3 linked regions of the Homo sapiens genome follow. The protein of the gene in region 3 interacts with the protein of the main gene of each other region in a biochemical or structural test. Each region holds a gene or a part of one and is shown on either strand. Other genes may lie near its edges.

Region 1 (3,652 bases), on a different chromosome or scaffold from region 3:
CTGGGCTGGAGTGCAGTGGCACGATCTCAGCTCACTGCAATCTCCCCCTCCTGGGTTCAAGTGATTCTCCCACCTCAGCCTCCCAAGTAGCTGGGATTACAGGTGCCTGCCAGCACACCCAGCTAATTTTTTGTATTTTTAGTAGAGACAGGGTTTCACTATGTTGACCAGGCTGGTCTAAAACTCCTGACCTCATGATCTGCCCACCTCAGCCTCCTAAAGTGCTGAGATTACAGGCGTGAGCCACCGGGCCCAGCCGACAACCTGATTTTTTTAAGTGGTAACAAATTTTAACAGACACTTCATCAAAGCAGATATACAGATGGCAAATAAGTACATGAAAATATGCTTAGGCCGGGCGCGGTAGCTTACGCCTGCAATCCCAGCACTTTGGGAGGCTGAGACGGGCGGATCACAAGGTCAGCAGATCGAGACCATCCTGGCTAACACAGTGAAACCCCGTCTCTACTAAAAATACAAAAAATTATCCAGGTGTGGTGGCGGGTGCCTGTAGTCCCAGCTACTCAGGAGGCTGAGGCAGGAGAATGGCGTGAACCTGGGAGGCAAAGGTTGCAGTGAGCCGAGATCATGCCATTGCACTCCAGCCTGGGCGACAGAGCAAGACTCCGTCTCAAAAAAAAAAAAAACGAACAAACAAGCATTATCTAGAAATTCCACTTGTAGGTATCTACTCCAGAAAAAGTCTCACTGTGTACATAAACATTATGTGCAGTATCATTTGTAATAGGTAAAATGTGGGAACAACTTATATCTACCAATGGGAGAATGGATAAATAGAATTACTGTATATTCACATATTGGAATTCCATATAGTAGTGAAAGTAAATAAAGTAGAAGTACATGTAACAAGCCAGTAAATCTTAAAAATGTATTAATTATAAACACTGCAGGCTGGGTGTGGTGGCTCAGGCCTATAATCCCAGTACTTTGGGAGGCCAAGGCGGGCAGATAAAGAGGTCAGGAAATTGAGACCATCCTGGCCAACATGATGAAACCCTGTCTCTACTAAAAATACAAAAATTAGACAGGCATGGTGGCACGTGCCCACAGTCCCAGCTACTCCAGAGGCTGAGGCAGGAGAATCGCTCAAACCCGGGAGGCGGAGGCTGCAGTGAGCCAAGATCGCGCCACTGCACTTCAGCCTGGGCGACAACTCAAAAACAACAACAACAACATTGCAAAAGAAGAAGATGTTATTTTTATATTTTAAGACACACAAAAATGCAAAGTATTGATTACAGATGTAAACTATGTAATCCTCATATATTAATATAAACAACGATAGAAGAATACCAACTTCAAGACAGTAATTACCTTCTGGTAAAGGAATGCTGGTAACGGAAGGAGCTCCACGTATTTCTGGCAAAATCTCTACCTCTCTTTGTCCCAAAACAATCACTCCCTCAATTCCGTATTTTTGCCTAAGGAATCATTAAAACTAATCACATCATGCTGTACATGGCTACTTACCTCAGTCACTACAAAAAGCCTAAAATACTCTGGTCATTATTCATAACCTGCAGACTTATTCCTTGCATCTGGGTACAGCACCTCGTCTGACTCCATTTTCCACCCTTCTAATCAGCGCCATTATATTCTCTGACACTTTCATCAGCAAAATCCCCTATATTCTCAAACTCTTCTCTGAATGTTCCCATCTTTTTCTTTAACTGAAACCTGGTTCTCTCCCAGGGATCCTCCTGCAACCCTCTGAAATAGCAGCTGTTTTCTCTCCCATAACCCTCATACCACCAGGCCTACAGGTGGGGAAGCTTATGCCTTTATACTATGTCACCTGCTACCATTGCTGGTTGTCCATTAAACCCCAGGTCACTTCCCTTATTTTTAAAAAATACCAGTACCTTGTTCACTGTCTCTCCAGTGCAATCCCAGTAATAAGTATTGGTGATTTTAATATCCATACAGATGGTATCTCTAAACCTCTGACCTCTTCATTCCTCGACCTCCTCTTCTCCAATGATGCCATCCTCCCTACAATGATCACCCACTGCCACAGCCTATCAGTAACAGCATCCCTTTCTAATTTCATTCCCAAGCACTCACACTCCTGACTCCAAACTTCTTTCACTCTCTCTTGACCTACAATCCACTGGTTCTACCAACTTTTTGCTGTCCCTGTCAGCCCGTTCTTGCTTCCCTCCTAACCGAAGATTCCACAGTCGATGTTCCAACCACTCAACTTTTTTGCTTCTCCCTCTGTTCACTAACCTGGCAAAACTTCAATCCTGATTAAATCCTATCTCTAAGCCTTCAGTGCTTTAACCTGCAGGCTGTAGCTGGAGAAAAACATTCACCATGTAGCTGGAGAAAAACATTGGTAATACTTTAAATTCATAAGCACTAACTTCAACAGGCTATTAGTCCTATCGAACAATCCTACATTTCCCTAATCCATTTCCTAGAAGACAATTTCATATCTTCTTTTCTTAATATAAACCTCTGTGCTACAGGCTTCAAAAGTTTGTCCTCATCCTTTTTCTTTCTTACTCTGCTTCCTTTTCTCCACTACATGTCCAGCTTTTCTTCCCAACTGCCAGCCCTCTGAGTAACAGCAGCCTTGGGAAGACACCTGGCTGCAAAAACAAAGCCACAAAAGAGGCAATAGCCTTCCATGACTTATGTAACAGCCTCCCTCTGAACCCTACTCCAGCAGCTCAACCTGCCTAGTTTTCTAGTCTAATTCCTCTAATAAACACCTAATTCCACAATACTCATAGTGGTTCTGTTTCCCTGTCTGAACCCTGAATTTCTGCTACAGGAAGTGGTTAAAAGAAGTCCTTAAAGATATGAACCTGAAGTTGCTTCTCTGATTTGATTGAAGGTATTAATGACCAGTTTCCAATGGTAAAGGGGCTACTAGTAGTCCACAGCATGCAGTGGCAAAATATTTAAAATCATCATCTGCAGACAAGGACCTACAGAAGACAAAGCCTTGGGTAACTAACTAGTGGATGCCATAGAAGATTTTAGTAAAAATAAGTTGTATAATGGGTTAATTAGTTGTTTCTAGGTACACTGGATAATTCTTTTCTCAGGAAAAGAAAATGATGAGCTCGGAGTTTTAAAAGCACTACTCAAATCTGGGTAAGGGGGCCAGAAATCTATAACTGCCTTCATAGAAAGCCTTATATCATGTGGCTACAGGGCTGAGACTTCTACAAAGTATATCCTGCAGGTGGCTCAGTTACAATGCAAATTGAATTCACACTCTTGCAGGACATCTTATGTTAAAGTTAGGACCTTGACTGGCAAGGAATGGGGCCCTGAAAAGTAGAATGAAGATATATGGACAGACTCTGATGAAGCCAAGTACCCCGAACTCCTAAATTCTGTGACATCTTCTGCTAGTAGAAGCATCAGTCCTTTATCCCATATGTGAGGAAATTAGTCTTCCTTTGCCTGTAGAGTATATAATGGCCTCCCCTGAAACAGCTGCCTTACAGGGGACTGCTGATCTTCCTGAAGATCTACTCCTAAAACCTCTCATTATTTAGATCCATAACAAGACTCAAATCTCAAGAGGTTCTGGGGGTTGACACAAAATGTGACATGTGATGATATGCAATACATACCAAAAAACTGCAGGATTTGGCCAATTTATGTTAATGGA
Region 2 (3,652 bases), on a different chromosome or scaffold from region 3:
CTGCCCTCCTCAGCCTCCCAAAGTGTTGGGATTACAGGCATTAGCCACCGCACCCCGCAATTGACTCTTTTTTTTTTTTAAAAGAGGACATAATGTCATGTGGCTAGTATAATTTTAAAAAATCATATATGGGGAAAAGTTATATATGCTCATTTAAAAAATTTATGCAGAAAAGAGAAAAGGAGCAAAAAAAACCAATTTCATCAAGTCAGCACTTGTTAAATCTATCATAGTTTCTTTTTATGTAATTATATGTGATAGAATTATTCATCTATCTTTTTCAGTAGTCTAAATAAAAGAAATATATAAAATAACTGTATGTTTGGAAGAAATCTAACTTGTGTTTTTTTTTTCTTTAAACAGTTTTTTTCCACTAACTGAAGGCAATTTGCATACCATTCAAAGTCTATGTCCATTTTTGTCAAAAGAAGAAAAGAAAGAATTTAGTGCTCAATGTATACCTGCTCTTTTGGGCTGGACTAAGAAAGATCTTTGCAGCACTAATGGTTAGTTGCTTGATAATAAATATTTCATTAATTTAATTATTGCTTGAGATGAAGAACTGTTTCTAATATATAAGACCACATCTAGCAGAGGTAAATTGAATTACAGCTGATTTGTTCTGAGATTATATGGATGAGTGTTGTTAGACAGTGGCTGTTACCATTTTACAGTACAAAAATGCTGGGCCTTAAGGGAAGACTTACGCCCAGAAATACCTTCTAACCATTTCTTTTCTATCTATAGCTTTTTAAAGCTGTGCCTCATTTCTCCCTAGCCAATCAATGATTGAACATATAAAGGCAAAAATAGCGTCTGTTGTATTTAAAACACTGCACTTTTCATTTGTTTATTAATTTAATAAACATTTATGAGCACCTGCTACATGGTAGTTCCTATTGTAGAGAAGACAAACATAAAGTTGTATTATGTGATAACCGATGTAGCAAAAAGATGTGCTATGTATAGAAGTGGCAGAAAGGAAGGAGTTTCCACTCTGCTTTGAGGGTGTTAGTGGCAATTTCACAAAGAGAAATATTTCTACTGGGTGTTGAAGGATAAATAGTTTTCCATATGGACATAGTTGGGGAAGGGCATTCCAGGTACACAAAAACATACAAGGGTACAGATTGTTCATTTTGGCTGGTATGTAAGATAGAAGGTTGGGGACAGAGGGTGTTAAGATACACCAGTGGATGGATTTTGAGGAATGGTAGAGATTCTAAAGAGTGAGTCCACATCAGAGTTTACCACATGTACTAGCTGCTATTGAGTGAATGAATGTATAAATTATGAAACAGTATGTTCTATTTTCCATTTGCTGTTTCCAGCTACTCTGTAGCTGTAGGGTTTTTTTTATTTGAATGATGAGTTTGCTGAATATGTCCTGCACTTAAGAAACCAAAACAAAAACAGCATAAGTCAGTTTAAATTACAGCATCATTCACTCTTTCTCCTCCCCCAAATTCTCTATTGTGTGCTAGGTGCTGGGTTTGGAGACAGGGTCTCTGCCCTTTGGAGCTTATAAGCTCATTTGTTGACTCTTAGATAAAAGTCATTATTAGAGTTCTTAACCTGAACACTTCTCAAGAAAGTCTTTTACTTCTCAAAGTGGACTTTTTTTTAATAGTAGCGATATAGTTCTTAAATATTTTTAATTTTCATTTTGAATTTTACTTTAGGAGGTTTTGGACATCTTGCCATTTTCAATTCTTGTCTGCAAACCAAAAGTATAGATGATGGAGAGCTATTACATGGAATATTAAAAATCATAATATCCTGGAAGAAAGAGCATGAAGATATTTTTCTTTTCAGTTGGTAGGTGATACTTTATACTATGTTTTTCCTTCAGTATACAATTCAGACAAAGATTACGTATCTGTGTCACAATTTTGTAGAGAAATTATGGTAGACATTTAAGTCAGTTATAAATAAGTATGTAAGATTTAAAGTAGCATACTTTCTAATTGAATGTCAATATAATCTTTTATTGTCTTTTGTTTTTATCTTTATCACAGTAATCTATCAGAAGCAAGTCCAGAGGTACTGGGTGTAAATATAGAAATAATCCGGTTTCTTTCCCTATTTCTGAAATACTGCTCATCCCCTTTGGCAGAGAGTGAGTGGGACTTCATCATGTGCTCCATGTTGGCTTGGTTGGAGGTAAATTAACCCGATATGTCATCACCTCTTGTGGGTTTTTGTACATACTTTTGCATCAGAACTATTTACTAATCTCATTCTTTAAGTGATGATTGTAATTGGTTCCTTTGTATAATTTAAAACACTTTATAGATGTTCTTCTTACCAGCTACTATTTGACAGAATAGTAAAATGATAGATTTTTAATGACTACCAGCATCATTCAGTGACCAAATCTCCTGTTATTAAAATGCCTTCTCCATTAGCTTATTGTAATATTTGCAGCACAGCCCTTTCAGGTTTTATCTGTTAATGACAATTATTTTGGTCTTTTTTGGTTATAATTAGATTATTTCTAAAACATACTGTGTGAATATTGTGAGAGTAATGCATTAAATAGTAGCAGATTCAGAGGGAATTAGTGTAATTTTTGACCCAAAGCAACCAGAGGTATATTACTTGTGGGCTCCAAGGCAGCAAGTCAGTCAGGGTTGGATTGGTCTGAATCTCTGCTTTGCCTGCTATTAGCTATGTGACTTAGAGTTTTAAACTTAAACTATTTGAGACTCAGTTTTCTTTCTTTCTTTCTTTCTTTTTTTTTAAATTTGAGATAGAATCTCGCTCTGTTGCTTAGGCTGGAGTGCAATGGTGCGATCTTGGCTCACTGCAACCTCCGCCTTCTGGGTTCAAGCAATTCTTGTGCCTCAGCCTCTCAAATAGCAGGATTACAGATGCCCACCAGCATGCACGACTAATTTTTATATTTTTGGTAGAGATGCGGTTTCACCATTTTGGCCAGGCTGGTCTCAAACTCCTGCCCTCATGTGATCCACTTGCCTCAGCCTCCCAAAGTGTTGGGATTACAGGCATGAGCCACTGTGCCTGGCCGATTTTCTTATTTTAAAATAATAACTTACAACTTGTAGGGCTACTGAGAAGATTATAAATGTGTATTTAATGTGTCTGACTTAGTGTTTCCTTCCATGGGTTAGAAATTAAAAAGGGTACTTGAGAATAAATTGTTTATTAATGATTCTATTCATGGTATTTAATTTTGAAGAAAAAAGTTATTTTGATGTAAAATTTTATGTTTCTCCTGAGATTACACACCTCAACTGCTTTTCGTTTTAAAATTCAAAGAAATGAAAGTGGGGCTTTTCTTTATATTGGCTTTATTTGTAGTGTTCTGGTAGAAGTCTGTTTACCTATTTCATTTTTATTGTTTTTTCAGACAACAAGTGAGAATCAGGCATTGTATTCTATTCCACTTGTGCAACTGTTTGCCTGTGTCAGCTGTGATTTGGCCTGTGACCTCAGTGCTTTCTTTGATTCCACAACTCTGGATACCATTGGCAATCTTCCTGTAAATCTAATCAGTGAATGGAAAGAATTTTTTTCCCAAGGCATCCACAGTTTGCTTTTACCTATTTTGGTGACTGTTACAGGCAAGTGAAAAAGGGAATAATAGTGAGATTGATTCATTGGAAATGACTTACTGAAAAATTCAAAA
Region 3 (3,105 bases):
TCGGTGTCCACAGCCCAGCTCGGACCCGCGCGCTCCCGCCGGGCGCCCCCCGCACAGACGCCTGGAGGAGGGGTCTGCGGTGGGCACGGGCAGCTCTGCACTTAACAGGAGAACCCAGCGGGGGTCTTCAGGGCCAAGGGCGGCCGCCCTCATCCCAGCGCCGCTCAGGACCGCAGCCTCCGCCTTCCGCGGTCCGGGGACTGGGAGTCGGGAAAGGGGCCTCCGAAAAGTAACTTGCCCGGCGATGCTGCGCGACCGCCTTCCAGCACCGGGAAGATTCTGGGCACTCAGGGACGTTGAGCTTCCCACCTGAGCCTCCGGGGGGACCCCTCACAACCGCCACCGCAGAGCGAGGCAAACCCAACGCGGGGGCAGAGGGCGGGTGCGCATGCGGGGCTGCAGGGATGCGGAGGGGAGGGCGCGGAGCGGAGGGCGCGGAGCGGAGGGGTCGCCCTCAGTCCTCGGTCCCGCCCCCAGCCCGCCCCCCCGGGCCCGCCCGACGCCCCCAGCCACCTGCAGACCGCGGCCCTGGGAGGAGGGCGGGACCCCGGCGCGGCGTGGCTGCGGGGCGCTCCCAAAGTCAACTCTTCACCAAGACAAAGAAAGAAAACTCGTGACGCAGACTCTGGAATAATAAATACGTTTTCTCTGCTACAGTCTCGGCAAAGGCCACGGCCCTAGAACGGGGCGCCGCCTCCGATGCAGTCTCAGGGCCACAGCCTCAGCGCAGCCACGGCCTCCAGGGCCCACCCGGGCCCTGCGGCCCCGCCCTGGGGGCGGCGGGCAGCGCCCGGGTCAGACCCGGCAGCAGCGGCGGCGCGAGCAGAGGGAAGGGGCCGCCGAGCGATGGCAGCAGCGGGCGGCCCGCGTAGACCTCGGGCGCTGGGGCCTCTGCGGGGGCAGCCGGGGACAGCGAGGCCGGGCGGCGGGAGGGTCCCAGCTGGCGCAGGCAGGCTGCCAGGTGGCCCAGCAGGCGGGAGCGCACGTCGGCCGGGACGCCCTCGCAGCCGGCCAGGAAGCGGTTCACCTCCGCCAGACACTCGTGGAAGCCGGCGCGGTACTTGCCCAGAACGGCGGGGTCGGCGCTGAGCGCGGCTGCGGGAGCGACACAGGAGGAGAGGTCGGTGCCGGGTCCCGGGGGTCCCGCGCCCTCCCCCCGCCTCCAAGCCGCCGCCGCCCGCGCCTCACCCGTCACCTGCACGCGACGCAGGCTCCGCAGGTGTCTCACGGTCATCTCCAGGATGTCCGCCTTCTCCAGCTTCGAGTGGCGGGAGCTCTGGGGGCGGGGATAGGCGGGAGGTCCAGGTCAGCTGCGACCCAGACTCCGGGTCTCGGGCCTTCGCCCCCGACTTACCTCTTTTCTGAGGGCGTCCAGGATGAGGGTTTTGAGCTGAGCGAGGCTCTCGTTAATACGCGCTCGGCGCCGCTTCTCCATGACCGGCTTGGAGGACTGCGGGTCGGGCACCGGCTGAGTCCCGCGTCCCTCCCGCCCCCCGGTCGCCCCCCTCACGCCCGGCCGGGACCCCACCTTGCGGTGCTCGGCCGCGCTCCGGGGCTTGTCTGGGGTCCGGCTGGCGCTGGCCGGCGCTCCTGCCATCGGCGAGGCGCTCGGTTTCCCCGGCGTGTCTGCGGCCATGGTGCGCCCCGCGCCTCCCCGTGCCGGGTGGAGCGCGCCGCCACGGACCACGGGCGGGCTGGCGGGCGAGCGGCGAGCGCGCGGCGATCCGAGCCCCTAGGGCGGATCCCGGCTCCAGGCCCGCGCGCGCCTCAGGCCGTTTCCCTATTTAAGGCCTCGCCGCCGCGGGGTGTGTGAACCCGGCTCCGCATTCTTTCCCACACTCGCCCCAGCCAATCGACGGCCGCGCTCCTCCCCCGCTCGCTGTCAGTCACGCCTCGGCTCCGGGCGCGGCCTCCGCGGGCGACAATGGCATGCGGGGCCCCCGCCCGCGCCCCCCTCCGACACCGCTGGGGACAGGGCCGGGTGATCCCGCGCTCCCCGATGCAGCCGGGGCCGAGCAACGCGCCGGGAGGGGCCGCTGGGGGCGAACGGGGCCCGGGACCCCCGGGGCTGGGCGGAGTCTCGGGGCTCACTCTCCCGCCCAGGGGGCCGGGAGCCGGGGCTGGACGGAGCTGGGGCTGTGGCCGCGCGGGAAGTCGGGAAGGAAATTCCCCCAGTGGCGCAGGGTCCGGCGGCGCCGAGGGGTGGGCGAGCCTCGGTCTCGAGCCTCTTGGCTTCCTCCGCCCGTCCCCACTCCGGTCCCGGTTTGGGCCCTGCTCGGTCTCCGAGTTTGATCCGACACCGGCTCGGCCTCCGGGGGTCCCACCCTCAGGTGTGCGGCCTGGAGCACGGAGGGCTGCAGAAAGCCTTGGGAGCGACAGAGCCGGGGGAAGGTCGGCGGCCGGGTCGGCAGGCGGGAGGGCGGAGTCAGCGGACGGCGAAGGGGCGCACGGGTGGCCCCGCAGAGCAGGGCCGGTGATGGCGCGGGCCGGGCCGGACCACGAGGAGCAGAACGTGCGCGTGACGCGAGCGGGCTGGTGACGTCACCAGGCACCCGGGGCGATGACGCAAGCCTGCTGGGATGACGTCATGTGGCCCGTGTCGCCACGTGCTTCCAGGTGACCCGCTGGCGAACTCAGCAGCAGCAAAGTGGGGCTCACAGAAAAATGAGGGGCCACTGTTAATATAACTGCAAAGGGGCAGGTTGCGTAAAACAGGGCTGTGGTTATTTTCGTGTTTGCTGTTTTTATTTCGAATGCCGCTGCGGGGCACGTTGGTCCTTTCCGCACTCGGGGTCCCCGGCGGCCTCACGCGTCCGTGCAGCGGAGGCTTCCTGAGCCCCCTGGAGAGCCTGGCCTGGGCCCGGGTGTGGAGACCCTCCCGGGCTTTCAATCCGGGCAGGAGGCAGATGGCAGACTCAGCAGTCACGTAAGAGAACCGAATTAGGTGGGTGGCCTGGGTGGACAAAAGCCTTCTTGACGCCGGGTGGTCCCAAAGGCTTCTGCGGGGTGGGGGGTCCTCAGGGGGGAAGCCTCAAGGGAGGGCGTGGCATTCCCAGGGTGCGAAGGGGGCGCAGGGACGAGGGAGGTGGGGAGGGGGAGCTGGGC

Evidence for each region.
Region 1: the proteins of HES4 (region 3) and COPG2 form a complex in vitro, tested with the Homo sapiens proteins (one large-scale study listed by BioGRID).
Region 2: the proteins of HES4 (region 3) and LTN1 form a complex in vitro, tested with the Homo sapiens proteins (one large-scale study listed by BioGRID).

Annotation. Positions count from the first base shown.
Region 1 is NC_000007.14:130,658,722-130,662,373, forward strand, and holds part of COPG2 (coatomer subunit gamma-2), read right to left. Parts: intron 1-3,652. UniProt on the Homo sapiens protein: The coatomer is a cytosolic protein complex that binds to dilysine motifs and reversibly associates with Golgi non-clathrin-coated vesicles, which further mediate biosynthetic protein transport from the ER, via the Golgi up to the trans Golgi network.
Region 2 is NC_000021.9:28,944,318-28,947,969, reverse strand, and holds part of LTN1 (E3 ubiquitin-protein ligase listerin), read left to right. Parts: intron 1-363; coding exon 364-506; intron 507-1,682; coding exon 1,683-1,818; intron 1,819-2,018; coding exon 2,019-2,163; intron 2,164-3,373; coding exon 3,374-3,587; intron 3,588-3,652.
Region 3 is NC_000001.11:998,338-1,001,442, forward strand, and holds HES4 (transcription factor HES-4), read right to left. Parts: upstream 1,761-3,105; 5' UTR 1,637-1,760; coding exon 1,529-1,636; coding exon of another isoform or gene 1,451-1,528; coding exon 1,355-1,450; intron 1,277-1,354; coding exon 1,189-1,276; intron 1,096-1,188; coding exon 722-1,095; 3' UTR 627-721; downstream 1-626. UniProt on the Homo sapiens protein: Transcriptional repressor. Binds DNA on N-box motifs: 5'-CACNAG-3'.